4 linked regions of the Homo sapiens genome follow. The protein of the gene in region 1 purifies or fractionates together with the protein of each later gene. This does not show direct contact. Each region holds a gene or a part of one and is shown in the gene's direction. Other genes may lie near its edges.

Region 1 (4,216 bases):
ACAAAGAAACATGGGTGGTGAGAATAGAAGGGAAAGGGTACATACATTTCAGAGAGATCAGAAGGATAGGATTTGTGAGATTTACTAAGTAGCTATAAGGGGTGAAGTAAAGAAAGCATAGAAGGAAAGTTGATTTCTAGCGTAGAACATTTTAATTTTACAAACATTTATTCCCTCTCCCAGCTCCATGGAAAAAGTACTCACTAATTGCTGTTGGTATATTAATTTGTATTACATTTTCTTCCCCACTTTCTCTTTTTTTTTTGAGACAGGGTCTGTGGCCCAGGCTGGAGTGCGGTGATGCCATCTTGGCTCACTGCAGCCTTGACCTCCCCGGGATCAAGAGATCCTTCCACCTCAGCCTCCTGAGTAGCTGGGACCATGTGTGCCAGCCACCATGCCCAGCTAATTATTATTTTTTTTTTTGAGACGGAGTCTCACTCTGTCCCCCAGGCTGGAGTGCAGTGGCGCAATCTCAGCTCACTGCAGCCTCCGCTCCCTGATTCATGCCATTCTCCTGCCTCAACCTCCCAAGTAGCTAGGACTACAGGCACCTGCCACCACGCCCGGCTAATTTTTTTTGTATTTTTAGTAGAGAGAAGGTTTCACTGTGTTAGCCAGGATGGTCTGGAACTCCTGACCTCGTGATCCGCCCGCCTCGGCCTCCAAAATGCTGGGATTACAGGCGTGAGCCACCGTGCCCAGCCCTATGCCCAGCTAATTTTTATATTTTTCGTAGAGACAGGGTTTCGCTGTATTGCCCAGGCTGGTCTTGAACTCTCGGGTTTAGGTGAGCGCCTTGGCCCCCGAAAGTGCTGGGATTATAGGCATGAGCCACTGTGCCTGGTTTCCCTTTCAAAAGAGATTTTGGGTGTTTCGTGTCACTGTATCCACGCCGCGTGCGGTCTCTTGTGCGTGGCTTCTTTTCCTGAGCACGCACAGCTGCCTTCTAACCCGCGAGCAATGGCGTTAAGGTTTTTGTTTGTAATTCGGGGGTGACCCAGGGGTTCGGGCCGCGGGCCCCTCCCCTCGCCCAGGCACACCTTGCAGAGGAGGGGGCGGCGGGGACAGGACCCGGGTCTGTGCCTGCGCACACCCTCGCGGGCCAACCCCCTCCCCCCCCGCCCCGCCGGGTACCTGTCACGGCTACTGCCGCGGCGCGCGCCCGCCACGTTAAGCCGGATGGCGGGAGGAGGGGTGCGGGGAGGGTGGCACGGCGCGCGCGTGCGCGGGAGTCGCCGAGCAAGAACTGGTAGTGCGCGCGCTCGCCGCTCGCTCGCGTCCCGGAGGCGGAGTCTGCGGCGGCGGGCGGAACGGGGGCGCGCCTATGCTAGTCACGTGGGCGCTGGGGCGGGGCCGGGCGGCCGTTCAAGGCAGGGGGCGGGGCGTCTCCGAGCGGCGGGGCCAAGGGAGGGCACAACAGCTGCTACCTGAACAGTTTCTGACCCAACAGTTACCCAGCGCCGGACTCGCTGCGCCCCGGCGGCTCTAGGGACCCCCGGCGCCTACACTTAGCTCCGCGCCCGAGGTGAGCCCAGGCCCTAAGTCCTCCGGGCGGGGGTAGGGGTGGGGGACGCTCCTTTTTGTTGGGGGGGGGTCTTGGAGGCGCGAAGGCACTAGGCGCCTCGGCGGATGGCTGAACCCCTCGCCCGCGGCTCCCCGTGTCTTTTGGGGGGCCGGGTGCGGGCGCGGAATCCGGGAGGTGTCCGCACAAAAGGCCGAGAAAAACTCCGCGACGCCTCCCTCCCTCCCTCCGCCCTCCCCGTCCCCTCCTCTCCGCGCCCGCTCCTCCTCATTCAAACCCGGCCGGCCTGAGTGGTGTTAGCTCAGTCCCGGCCGCCGCCGCGTGAGGAAATGGCCTAGGAGCCGGAGCCGCAGGTAAAGGGGGCGCGCCCCCCGCCCGCGCCAGCCGGGGCGCCCGCCCGGTCCTGCGGAGGCTCCCGCGCCGCCCCCGAGGCGCCCGGCTCTCGTTGTCTTGTCCCCCCCCAGGATGACCTGAGTTCCCCGTGTCTGCTTTCTAGCCGCTCCTCTAGGGCGCCCCCTCCCCAGCTGGCTCCTGCGCTTCCGCCCACGGGAAGGTGCGGGCGATCCCGGGCTGCATCCGCTCTTGGCCGTCACACTCACGCTGCACGATTTAGAAGGGCTTGGGGTGCGGGGTTCCCTGAGTCTCCGCCGGGAGCGGGGGTCCGGGGGTCTGCGGGGGTGGGCGGTGGGGTGCTGTTCCGAAAAGTTGGGTCGCCCCGCGGGGCGGGTCTCCCAATTTGCCCAGTCGGCCCTTGGGGCGCGGGCGGAGGGGGGACGTCGGCGTAGGGTCCCCAGCGATGCCCCGGGAAGGGCTGGGACAAGTTGGAAACGGTCAAAACAATGCGTCTGGACGGGCAGCATTGTTTCTTATTGTAGTTTTAATCTGCATTTCTCTAATAGATAGTGATGATGACCAGTTTTTCATTTGCTTATTTGCCAGTTGCAAATCTCTATTAGTGAAGTATCTGTTCACGTATTTTGCCCGTTTTTTAAAAGTTGGGTTGTTTTCTTACAATTGAAGTTTATTTTTTCTTATACTCAAAATTTTAATTCGCACATAATAAATTGTACATATTTATGAGGTACAATGTGATGTTTCAGTACATTTTACATTGCATAATGATCAAATCATGGTAATTAGCATATTCATTGCCTTAAACATTTACCATGTCTTTGATGTAAGAATATTCAAAATCCTCTTTTCTAGCGAGAATATGAGTGTATTTTAAATGTTCATCTATTTGTTTTCTCACAATCCTATAAAATGATAGCTTGAGTCAATGAGTTATGCCCCCAAGTCCTATCAACCTTGTCTATTTTAGTGAAATTTAATATTGTTTAGAAAACACTAAGCAAACATAGTTATTCAGAGAGCATAACTGAGCCCTCTGGTTATTCTCTGTAACCCACAAAGGAAGCTGAACACTTGATGTAAACTTCTTCATCAGAGTAAATAATAATCCTCTCCATTACATACAAAAGAAAAAATAACTAGAGAGATAGTCTCTGCTCTGAGGTTATTATCCTGTGGTCTTTGGTTTTGGTACATTCTCCCCCACCCCATGCCCTTCTCCCTCATCTTTAATGAGTATCTGTATGTATGGCAGAACAGTATTTTTTTTATTATACTTTAAGTTTTAGGGTACATGTGCACAATGTGCAGGTTAGTTACATATGTAAACGTGTGACATGCTGGTGCGCTGCACCCACAAACTCCTCATCTAGCATTTGGTATATCTCCCAATGCTATCCCTCCCCCCTCCCCCCACCCCACAACAGTCCCCAGAGTGTGATGTTCCCCTTCCTGGGTCCACGTGTTCTCATTGTTCAGTTCCCACCTATGAGTGAGAATATGCAGTGTTTGGTTTTTTGTTCTTGCGATAGTTTACTGAGAATGATTTCCAATTTCATCCATGTCCCTACAAAGGACATGAACTCATCATTTTTTATGGCTGCATAGTATTCCATGGTGTATATGTGCCACATTTTCTTAATCCAGTCTATCATTGTTGGACATTTGGGTTGGTTCCAAGTCTTTGCTATTGTGAATAGTGCTGCAGTAAACATACGTGTGCATGTGTCTGTATAGCAGCATGATTTATAGTCCTTTGGGTATATACCCAGTAATGGGATGGCTGGGTCAAATGGTATTTCTAGTTCTAGATCCCTGAGGAATCGCCACACTGACTTCCACCATGGTTGAACTAGTTTACAGTCCCACCAACAGTGTAAAAGTGTTCCTATTTCTCCACATCCTCTCCAGCACCTGTTGTTTCCTGACTTTTTAATGATTGCCATTTTCAAAGAATAGTATGTTTTTAAGTCTGTGCAGTCTTGGGCCAAGCTCGTTCTATTCCCCATTCTACAAGAATCACAAGAGCGCTAGGATTCTGTTTGGGGTTGCCGTGGACACAGAGTTCTTACTACAGAACTGACTTATTCTCAATAGGAGGTAAAGACCTAGAGGTGAGGTCTCTGAGCAAGGGAGTCCCATCCCATCCTCTGCCCTCTCTGTTGGCTGTTATCCTCTCATCTTCATCAGGAGAATTAAAATCATGTAAAGTTTTGGCGGGGGAACTAGATGGTGGTCTCTGCGGCCCATAGACAGGAAAGTTTGCTTATACCCAGCTGGGGGGACCACTAATTGACATTCCTTTCCCCTCCCAGGGACCTTACAGAGTCCCCTTACCCT
Region 2 (3,500 bases), on another chromosome or scaffold:
TGGTTTTATATGCAGCTTAACTAGTTTTTTTTTTTTGGTCACTGTAGAAAATGATGAAAGATAATAACTTAGTAAGGCATCTGGATGCTTGTGAAACCATGGGAAATGCTACAGCTATTTGTTCAGATAAAACAGGAACTTTGACAATGAACAGAATGACAGTCGTTCAAGCTTACATAAATGAAAAACATTATAAAAAGGTTCCTGAACCAGAAGCTATTCCACCAAATATTTTGTCCTATCTTGTAACAGGAATTTCTGTGAATTGTGCTTATACATCAAAAATATTGGTAAGGTTTTTGAAATAATTTATGAAAATTAATTTTTAAATCTATAATGATCAGACTATATGTAAGTCTTCAGACCACCATTACTGTATGTAAACTGAACTGTTAAGTTTTTAAAAGGCATATATTTATTTATATAATGGTTTTTAAATTTGTGTTATGAGTGAGGTCTGCTGATCAACATAAACATTGTTTGCTTACATTTTTCTCCTATATTTTGAATTTCCTGTGTTCAGAAACTCTCCAGCCTTATAACCAGAGCATGTATTTAATTTTAAATTCTTGTTAAGCTCATTTTTGAGAAAGATCAAACTGTCTTACTATAGGAGGTCAGCTCTCAACTTACAGAAAATTTTTAAGCCGATTTCAACTTAAAATAACATGTTTTATATATGGTTGCCATGTGTTCTGTTTGGTTTCTCAGTAGTTCCTACCTAAAAGGTGGTCCTTAGACCTTTTTAGAACTAATGCAGTAAAGTAATTCTAGACTTGTGCCACCATATAATAAAAAATTTTCAACTTACAAGTTTTAAAAATCTTATTTATAACAGAAAGAATGCGATGTTATGTTTGACTTAATCTCTTCTAGTGATTTATGGATGAAAATCATTAACAAAAATAATATTGCAAGCTGTTCATTAGGGAAAACATACATGAATTGGATGATTACATTGGAAAGTTATGGGATCTTGGTTCTAGATCTAGCTTTGCCTTTTACTAGCTGAAAGTCTGAGCTACCTTCTTTAATTACTGAGTAAAGATGATCACATCTGCCCTTAATACCATTGTGATAATTATGTAAAGTGGTATTTCTGAAGGCACTATGAAGGAATTGAAGCTTCTCACTGCATTTAAGAGAACAGTATTTTAATGAATGTACTTTTAAGCCATAAAAATTGGTAGATTTAATTTTGAATGATTTAGTATAAAAGTTAAGTGAAAACAGGAAAAGGAAATTAAAATTAAGTTCCACTCTGTATTAGGAACCAACTATAAACTTCATACATCTTATATCACTTAATTTTGGGGTCATAAGTGCTCCTATTTTACAGATGCTGAAGCCAAGGACCAAAGCAGTTGGGTAATTGTCAAATTTCACGTAGCTAGTAACTGGCAGGACTGAGATTAGAATCCATGTCATTCTCACCCCAGGCTCCTTTCTACCTTACTTTTCTATATCCTTCTTTAAAATGTTGATATTAGACAATTGCTTTGTAATTTTATTTTAGAATATCGCAGTCTGTTTTACATTATAAATTAAACGTTCTTAGAGAAACGAGATACTAGCTACTAAATGTTTTTCTCTTATAGCCACCAGAGAAAGAGGGTGGATTACCTCGTCACGTTGGTAATAAAACTGAATGTGCCTTGTTGGGACTTCTTTTGGATTTAAAACGGGATTATCAGGATGTTAGAAATGAAATACCAGAAGAAGCACTGTACAAAGTCTACACCTTCAATTCTGTTAGGAAGTCCATGAGTACTGTCCTGAAAAATTCAGATGGAAGTTATCGAATATTCAGCAAGGGTGCATCTGAGATAATTCTGAAAAAGTAAGAGTAAAATGCTTGGATGAATAAATTGCTGACTATAGTTGCTTTATGGAGTATCTACTGTGTTGTTATTGTTGTTGTCTTTTTGTGAACATCAGGCATTTGATAGGACCTCAGAGTTTTTTAGCATATTTTATGGTATCCAGATATTTGCCCCTGCTATTCTGCCATTTTCACACTCTAGCTTCTCTTATTTCTTAGCATTTTGTTATAGGGAAAATAAGCTCATTACATTCAATCTGGTATGTTTAATGAAGTATACTTTGATGTTTATTTTTAGAAGTCGATTTACTTGTTATTTAATATGCAGAATCTTGAAAAGCCTCCTGGGAAGAAAATCAAGTTTATGTCTTTCTTTCTTTCTTTTTTTTTTTTTTTTTATTTGTTTAAGGTGGAGTTTCCCTGTATCACCCAGGCTGGAGTGCAGTGGCGCGATCTCAGCTCACTTCACCCTCCGCCCCTGGGTTCAAGGGATTCTCCTGCCTCAGCCTCCCAAGTAACTGGGATTACAGGCACCTGCCACCACGCCTGGCTAATTTTTGTATTTTTAGTAGAGTCAGGGTTTCACCATGTTGGCCAGGCTGGTCTTGAACTCCTGACCTCAAGTAATCTGCCTGTGTCGGCCTCCCAAAGTGCTGGGATTACAGACGTGAGTCACTGCACCTGGCCTCAAGTTTAGATCTTCAACGCTCATTGTGGTTACTGGACTCTGAATGTGATAAGAGAATTATGAAGTAATTTTTAGAATAGCAAAGCATAAAAGCTGGATCTTGGAAATTCCCCATTTATATCAAAATGAGATTTATCATGTTTATGCTGCTGCAGTGTCGTATTTAAATATCTCCTGTCATTTTGAATACTAATTTTTCTTACTGTCCTTTTACAGATCAGTAGCTTTAATTTTGTTATTACATGTTCACATATAATTTCCCTGATGTTTATTTGTTATTAAAGGTGGTGAAATTATTTTAGTTTCTTTAATTTCATTAAAGAAGTAGAGAACTGGTTAAAAAAAAATACTGGTTAAGAGCAAGTTGGGAAAATTGGAACTCATTTGAAATTATAATATTTAAAATATTAAAGTAAATGTTTAAGATATACTTTTAATTTGCTTACATGTGGATTATAAGCCAGTATTAATGAACACTTTACAATTAGTTTAAGAGACAAATATATAAATAAATAACTGAAGGCAGCATATAATAAATTGGTACAAAGTTTTTGGGTGAGAGATCACACTGTAGGGATGTGGCATTTAAGATAGATTTTGGTATGAAATGAGAACTTCGAGGTGGGGAAACCACAGCAGAGGAAAGGAGATGAGAATATGCAGGTCATACTGGGGAGGGGAATATCTGGTTGTATAGTTCAGCTGAATAGTGATGGGCTTTTGTGGCACACAGGCCATATACAGCTTTCTTCTTGCCACAGTACACTCAGTTACCTGATTTCATTGAAAAGGTTAGAAATCTGTTTCAACCCTGGCTTGCTGGGTAGTAGATAGATGGTTTAGGAGAGAATTTTTTTTAGTCAAAACTGATCAGGCATTGACTCTTTCTCTGCAACTAACTAGCTTCTGGATATGGGGCAGATTTTTCCCTTACTTCCATTTTTCTCATCTGAGAAAGCGGGTGATGACCACCAACTCTGTGGCACTTAA
Region 3 (3,500 bases), on another chromosome or scaffold:
GCAATGCAGTGAGGTAGGTTCTATTATTATCTCCATTTACAGGTAAAGAAACTGAGGGTAGAGCATGTAAGTAATTTTCCTGTATGGTTGAACTGGGATTAGAACATTGGTCGCTTAGCTTCAGAGCCCTGTGTGGTTTCCATACTGCTAGATAGAAAGTTAGGTGAACTATTATGGGTGTCAGTTTGCCCGTTTTACATCCGGCTCTCTGCTTCAGGCTTGCCTTAGTCCATATGCATATTTTGATGTATTTGTTTGCTCTTGCTCAAAATTGTGTTATGAAAATTAAGGTGAATACTTAAATGCTATTCTAATCATTATGAAAATTGTTGGGCACCACTTGGACTTTTTTCTTGGATTTACCCTAATAACTTGAGTTGTTTCTGTGGAATTACAGTTGTAGTAAAAGGATGTTTTCATCATAGTGACTTTTTTTCTGCAGCCCAGTTGCAGTATCTTGAATATGAAAGAGAAATCTTGAATTACTGCCTCATTCAAAGCTCTGAATAAGGAACTTTTTTCAGAAGTTTGCTGCAAAATAATTTGCCGACTTGTACTGACAGGAGGCTACTGAATAATCTTTATCTCACTTAATAAATAGTTATGTTCTGTCTTGGAATATTAATTTGTTTGGTTATTGGTGCACTTTAGACCCCATAGGGTCTGTTTGAGTGTAAACGCTGTGTTACTTTTCTAAAATCTGAAAAATTCTTTTTTTTTTTTTTTGATTTTTTTTTTTTTTTTAATTGATCATTCTTGGGTGTTTCTCACAGAGGGGGATTTGGCAGGGTCATAGGACAATAGTGGAGGGAGGGTCAGCAGATAAACAAGTGAACAGAGGTCTCTGGTTTTCCTAGGCAGAGGACCCTGCGGCCTTCCGCAGTGTTTGTGTCCCTGGGTACTTGAGATTAGGGAGTGGTGATGACTCTTAACGAGCATGCTGCCTTCAAGCATCTGTTTAACAAAGCACATCTTGCACCGCCCTTAATCCATTTAACCCTGAGTGGACACAGCACATGTTTCAGAGAGCACAGGGTTGGGGGTAGGGTCACCGATCAACAGGATCCCAAGGCAGAAGAATTTTTCCTAGTACAGAACAAAATGAAAAGTCTCCCGTGTCTACCTCTTTCTACACAGACATGGCAACCATCCGATTTCCCAATCCTTTCCCTGCCTTTCCCCTCTTTCTATTCCACAAAACCGCCATTGTCATCATGGCCCGTTCTCAATGAGCTGTTGGGTACACCTCCCAGACGGGGTGGTGGCCGGGCAGAGGGGCTCCTCACGTCCCAGTAGGGGCGGCTGAGGAGAGGCGCCCCTCACCTCCCGGACCGGGCGGCTGGCCGGGCGGGGGGCTGACCCCCCCACCTCCCTCCCGGACGGGGCGGCTGGCCGGGCGGGGGGCTCACACCCCCACCTCCCTCCCGGACGGGGCGGCTGGCCGGGCGGGGGGCTGAACCCCCCACCTCCCTCCCGGACAGGGCGGCTGGCCGGGCAGGGGGCTGACCCCCCACCTCCCTCCCGGACGGGGCGGCTGGCCGGGCAGAGGGGCTCCTCACTTGCCAGTAGGGGCGGCCGGGCAGAGGCGCCCCTCACCTCCCGGACGGGGCGGCTGGCCGGGCGGGGGGCTGACCCCCCCACCTCCCTCCCGGACGGGGCGGCTGGCCGGGCGGGGGGCTGACCCCCCACCTCCCTCCCGGACGGGGCGGCTGGCCGGGCAGAGGGGCTCCTCACTTCCCAGTAGGGGCGGCCGGGCAGAGGTGCCCCTCACCTCCCGGACGGGGCGGCTGGCCGGGCGGGGGGCTGACCCCCCCACCTCCTTCCCGGACGGGGCAAATCTGAAAAATTCTGAAGCACATTTGTTCTTAAGGATTTTAAGTAAAAGATGAGGACCCCCGTAGTACAGTTTTGGGGAAACACAACAGCATATATAAGTATTTTTATTTTTTGAGATGGAGCCTTGCTCTGTCACCCAGGCTGAAGTGCAGTGGCGTGATCTCGGCTCACTGCAACCTCTGCTTCCCGTGTTCAAACGATTCTCGTGCCTCAGCCTCCTGAGTAGCTAGGAAAACTGGCGCGAGCCACCATGCCTGGCTTATTTTTGTATTTTTAGTAGAGATGGGGTTTCACCATGTTGGCCAGGCTGGTCTCGAACTTCTGACCTCAATTGATCCACCTGCCTCGGCGTCCCAAAGTCCTGGGATTACAGGCGTGAGCCACTGTTCCCTGGCCACAGCAGCATATTTTAATACTTGTTTTTGAGGCTTAGTTTATTTAGTTTTCCTGTGAAACAGTTAAGTAGCCAAATACAAAAATGTAGGCATGCGTTTGAATTTCAGACTTCTGACAGTATTTTCAGAGATAGCATGTGCATGAAAGCATGAAAAGGTTTGCTCTGGCAGTTACACAACCTTAAAGTTCAGTTTAAGTAATTTTTTTTTTGTTTGTTTTGGCATGAAGTCTCGCTCTGTTGCCCAGGCTCCAGTGCAATAGCAAGATCTTGGCTCACTGCAACCTCCACCTCCCAGATTCAAGCAGTTCTCCCACCTCGGCCTCCCAAGTAGCTGGTATTACAGGTGCCTGCCACTACGCCCGGCTAATTTTTGTATTTTTAGTAGAGACAGAGTTTCACCATGTTGGCCAGGCTGGTTTCCAACTCCTGACCTCAAGGGATCTGCCCACCTCGGCCTCCCAAAGTGCTGGGATTACAGCTGTGAGCCACTGTGCCCGGCCCAGTTTAACTAATCTTTATTGAGGTTTTTTTTTGTGTGTTTTCTGCAACACATTTGGGACTTTCAATTTTTAAGGTTGACAGTCGTTTCAGCATGGCTGTTTTGGAATTAGTGGGCTCTTGAATACACCAGAAAGCATAGCACCATTTCACAGCTTGTAAAGTCTGCGGTTTGAAAAATGGAAATAGTTCGTTTATTGGCATATTTGACATGTTAATTGAACGTACCTGTTATCTAAAACATTATTAATGGAATACTTTTGCCTTGATTTCTGCTTAACATGTTTAGCTAAGCGTACTTATAATTAATACCCCTTTTAGTAGTTATTTGTTTTACTCTCTTGGTTTGCAAATTGGCTGAATAAAATGAATATTTCTTCAGACAATTAAGGACAAAAGCTCTGTATGCAATGATAACACGGAGGGCTTAGATTTCCTTGGCATAGTGATTCTTAACCCTGGCTACACATTAGAATCACTTCGGGAACTTTTTTTTTTTTTTTTTGAGATGGAGTCTCGCTCTGTCACCCAAGCTGGAGTGGAGTGGCGCGGTCTCAGCTCACTGCAAGGTCTGCCTCCTGGGTTCACCCCATTCTCCTGCCTCAGCCTCCCGAGTATCTGGGACCACAGGCGCCCACCACCACGCCTGGCTAATTTTTTGTATTTTTAGTAGAGACGGGGTTAGCCAGGATGGTCTTGATCTCCTGACCTCATGATCCGCCTGCCTCAGCCTCCCAAAGTGCTGGGATTACAGGCTTGAGCCACCGCG
Region 4 (3,500 bases), on another chromosome or scaffold:
TTTCACATATATTATGTATAATTCCCCCAACAATTCTATGAGGTATATGCTGTTATTATAAGACCTATTGTATGGATGAGGAAACTAAAGCACAGGGATGTTAAGTGACTTTCCCAAGGTCACACAGAAACTAAATGGCAGAGCCAAGTGGCAGTGTCATTCAAAACCAGGGCACAAAATGTCCTAAGTTCACCTTGTACTTTCCCTGCACCAGGTCTGGAAACAGACATTTCACCAACGATTCCTAGTTCACGTTATTGGGCAATGATATTTAGAAGCCAAGCTGTATACTGGCTGAGTGTGCTCATTACCACTAGGGTGTCTCTGCCCTTTTGATGGATAGAATTAGGGCATACTCTATGATTTTTTTCCACTTTATTTTGTTCTCTACAAAAGATATCTGGTCAGAGTACAGTGTGTTTAAGTTCTCAAAATCTTTAAGGAGTCACGTTGTTAATTTGTAGTATATTTTGCTTTTTTGTGTTTATTTTTTGAATTTGTGAAACATTTACATGGTTCCAAATTACATATAAAAGCATTCTTTTGGGAGACCAAGGTGGGATCACTTGAGCCCAGGAGTTTGCGACCAGCCTTAGCAACAGAGGGAGGCCCCATCTCTGCAAAATATAAATATAAAAAACATTAGCCGGGCATGATGTCATGTGCCTGTAATCCCAGCTACTCAGAAGGCTGAGGTGGGAGGATCGCTTGAGCGCAGGAGTTTGGGGCTGCAGTGAGCTACTACTGGGCCACTGCACTCCAGCCAGGATGACAGAGTGAGACTCTGTCTCTTTAAAAAAAAAAAAAAAAGTATACTTAGAATCATGCTTCCATTCTTATCCTCTTCAGTCAGTTCTCCCTGACCCCCCTAGACGGCTTGATAGTCTATTTTAACATGTGGGGGAACTAGACCCTCCTTATTGCTCTCCTATTTCAGGGTTAGTGAAGATTGTTAAAACTGGAAGCCCTCTGTGTAAAAGAGTACAGTGAAGCAAATATGCATACACACTGCCCATGGGAATGTACACTTACAGGACTGCTTTGGAAGTTAGGTAGATTTTACTATAAACCATAAAAATCTTTGCAATTTTTGATTTGACAGTGCTGAAGTAACTCATACAAAGATACATACAAAAATATTCATCACAATTTTTTTTTTTTTTTGAGACAGAGTCTTGCTCTGTTGCCCAGGCTGGAGTGCAGTGGCATGATCATGGCTCCCTGCAACCTCGACCTCCCAGGTTCAAGCAATTCTAATGCCTCAGCCTCCCAAGTAGCTGGGATTACAGGCTTGTGCCACCATGCTCAGCTAATTTTTGTATTTTTAGTAGAGACAGGATTTTGCCATGTTACCCAGGCTGGTCTCGAACTCCTGGGCTCAAGTGATCCGCCTGCCCTGGCCACCCAAAATGCTGGGATTTCGTGCATGAGCCACCACGCCCGGCCCTCATTATAATGTTTTTTTTGCGTGGTGAAAATTTTAAAACAGTTTCAGTGTCCATCTTTAGCCATTGAAACGGTATATTGGTATATTCAGAGAATATTCATTGACATTGTTAAGGTTCTAACAATACAATAGGTGAAAGAAAGCATTGTACAAAAAGTAATGTGTTTTGTACATAGGGAAAAGACAAGAAAATTCATAAAAATGTTAAGGCAGCATTTTTCATTTTCTTTGTACTTTTTATGCCGCCTTTATTATGGGCTGGCAAGTGGTTGTGTTGTGTTATTTTTTAATTTGAAGAATTTTTTTTACAAAGTCTAATCTTTTCTATTGTGTAAGAATCTGGAAGGTAGAAGTAGTAAAAATGATAGCCCTTGCCATTCTTTTTCATTGTGCATTAAAAATGTAAGCATTTTTTTCTTTTTTTTGAGAGAAGGTCTTGCTCTGTCACCCAGGCTGGAGTGCAGTGGCATGATGATGGCTCACTGTAGCCTTGACCTCCTGGGCTCAAGCAATCCTCCCACCTTAGCCTCCTGAGTAGGTGGGACTACAGGTGTGCACCACCATTCCCAGCTAATTTTTGTATTTTTTTTTTTGGTAGAGATGGGGTTTCCCCATGTTACCGAGGCTCATCTCAAACTCTTGAGCTCAAGCTGTCTACCCACCTCAGCCTCCAAAAGTGCTGGGGTTACAGATATGAGCCACTGCGCCTGGCCTATTTCTTAATATATAAGTTACTAAACTAATATCGCTATCCTTTGAATAGCTAACATTCCATAATTGATTTAGGGTTATAGTCCAAAGTTTACAGATTAGTTTCTGGGTGTCTTACCTCCATTCTTCAGATGGCTGCTTTTTTTTTTTTTTTTTTTTTTTCTGTTTTCTTGAGGACAAGTATTAGAAAGCCAAGTGCAGAATATATCTTCCATAGAAGCCGGCTTTTGTTATGGTAACTTCCCTCAAATGGGGTAGGTGTGATGGTACTCACCTTCATAAACATTTTTCTTTTTTAGCATCTCAAAGACAAATTTTGGAATTTTATTTTCTACAAGTTCATTTTCATCTTTGGTGTGCTGAATGTCCAGACAGTGGAAGAGGTGGTCATGTGGTGCCTCTGGTTTGCCGGACTTGTCTTTCTGCACCTGATGGTTCAGCTCTGCAAGGATCGATTTGAATATGTGAGTTTTTAGCCAAGCTTTTTGCTTGCTTAGTCACCACGTTTGCCAACTTTGAATTGTGTAATGTGAATGAGCCACAGCAGGCATGGTCAGGGTAGCTCTTCTGGGAAGACTTCTAGATCAGGCCCCCATTGCCTGTTTCTTGAAGAACTTTCTACAGCAGCCAAGAGATGCAGAATCGTTGTCTCCTGGGGAGCTTTCTTCCCAACCCCATAGTGTTTACTTACTGCTAACATGGGGTCACTTCACCTATGCAGACTGTTTTGTTCACAGTGCAAGGAAACCTTGATACATAAACAATAAAATCTGGTCTTTTCTAGATATTTTCTGTTCTAGTCTCCTTCTGTCTCTCCCAGCTTACTCTGGTTCGTGGAGCTCTTCTTTCTGAGTAGTTTATACTATTTCCACCCCGGGCCAGGACTGAATTAGCTCCCTCAGCTTCCTTGTTTGCGAAGTGAATCATTTTATGTCTGGTACAAGATCTGTCACTTGGTTTCAGATCATAGCTGTATGAGTGAACCTTCAACCCATTAGTGACCTGAAGTAGTCTCATGAGTCCCAGATAAATGTGCATCTACAGTGCTGCCCCTCAGTTAAACCCGCTCCAGGGCCTTGTTTTTCCCTGTCTTTACCCAGTCCACATGGACCTTGCACCTTGGTTTGAGTTAATCTCACTCTCACAGCCTTTATTTCTTTCACATTCAACCCTCATTTGAAGTCACAAACAGGAGCTTCTAACCTCCCAAACTGTTTTTTTTAATCTCCGCCTGTGACCTCAGGAGTTGCAGCTCTAGGCCTTCTTTTCAGACTGTTGCCTCTCCTTGCATAATGCTGACATCACGTTGTAGTAGTGGTAAACCTGTGCCTGGATTGCATTT

The links. Proteins that work in one complex are often made in the same cells at the same time.
Region 2: the proteins of TPTE (region 1) and ATP2B1 purify together in Homo sapiens (affinity purification with mass spectrometry; 2 studies listed by BioGRID and IntAct, with this or other methods). This does not show direct contact.
Region 3: the proteins of TPTE (region 1) and SEC63 purify together in Homo sapiens (affinity purification with mass spectrometry, with the first as the bait; 2 studies listed by BioGRID). This does not show direct contact.
Region 4: the proteins of TPTE (region 1) and AMFR purify together in Homo sapiens (affinity purification with mass spectrometry; 2 studies listed by BioGRID and IntAct, with this or other methods). This does not show direct contact.

The regions. Positions count from the first base shown.
Region 1 is NC_000021.9:10,520,167-10,524,382, forward strand, and holds the start of TPTE (putative tyrosine-protein phosphatase TPTE), read left to right. Parts: upstream 1-1,416; 5' UTR 1,417-1,528; intron 1,529-4,216.
Region 2 is NC_000012.12:89,618,339-89,621,838, reverse strand, and holds part of ATP2B1 (plasma membrane calcium-transporting ATPase 1), read left to right. Parts: intron 1-47; coding exon 48-290; intron 291-1,598; coding exon 1,599-1,840; intron 1,841-3,500. UniProt on the Homo sapiens protein: Catalyzes the hydrolysis of ATP coupled with the transport of calcium from the cytoplasm to the extracellular space thereby maintaining intracellular calcium homeostasis.
Region 3 is NC_000006.12:107,951,709-107,955,208, reverse strand, and holds part of SEC63 (translocation protein SEC63 homolog), read left to right. Parts: intron 1-3,500. UniProt on the Homo sapiens protein: Mediates cotranslational and post-translational transport of certain precursor polypeptides across endoplasmic reticulum (ER). Proposed to play an auxiliary role in recognition of precursors with short and apolar signal peptides.
Region 4 is NC_000016.10:56,408,546-56,412,045, reverse strand, and holds part of AMFR (E3 ubiquitin-protein ligase AMFR), read left to right. Parts: intron 1-2,457; coding exon 2,458-2,622; intron 2,623-3,500. UniProt on the Homo sapiens protein: E3 ubiquitin-protein ligase that mediates the polyubiquitination of lysine and cysteine residues on target proteins, such as CD3D, CYP3A4, CFTR, INSIG1, SOAT2/ACAT2 and APOB for proteasomal degradation.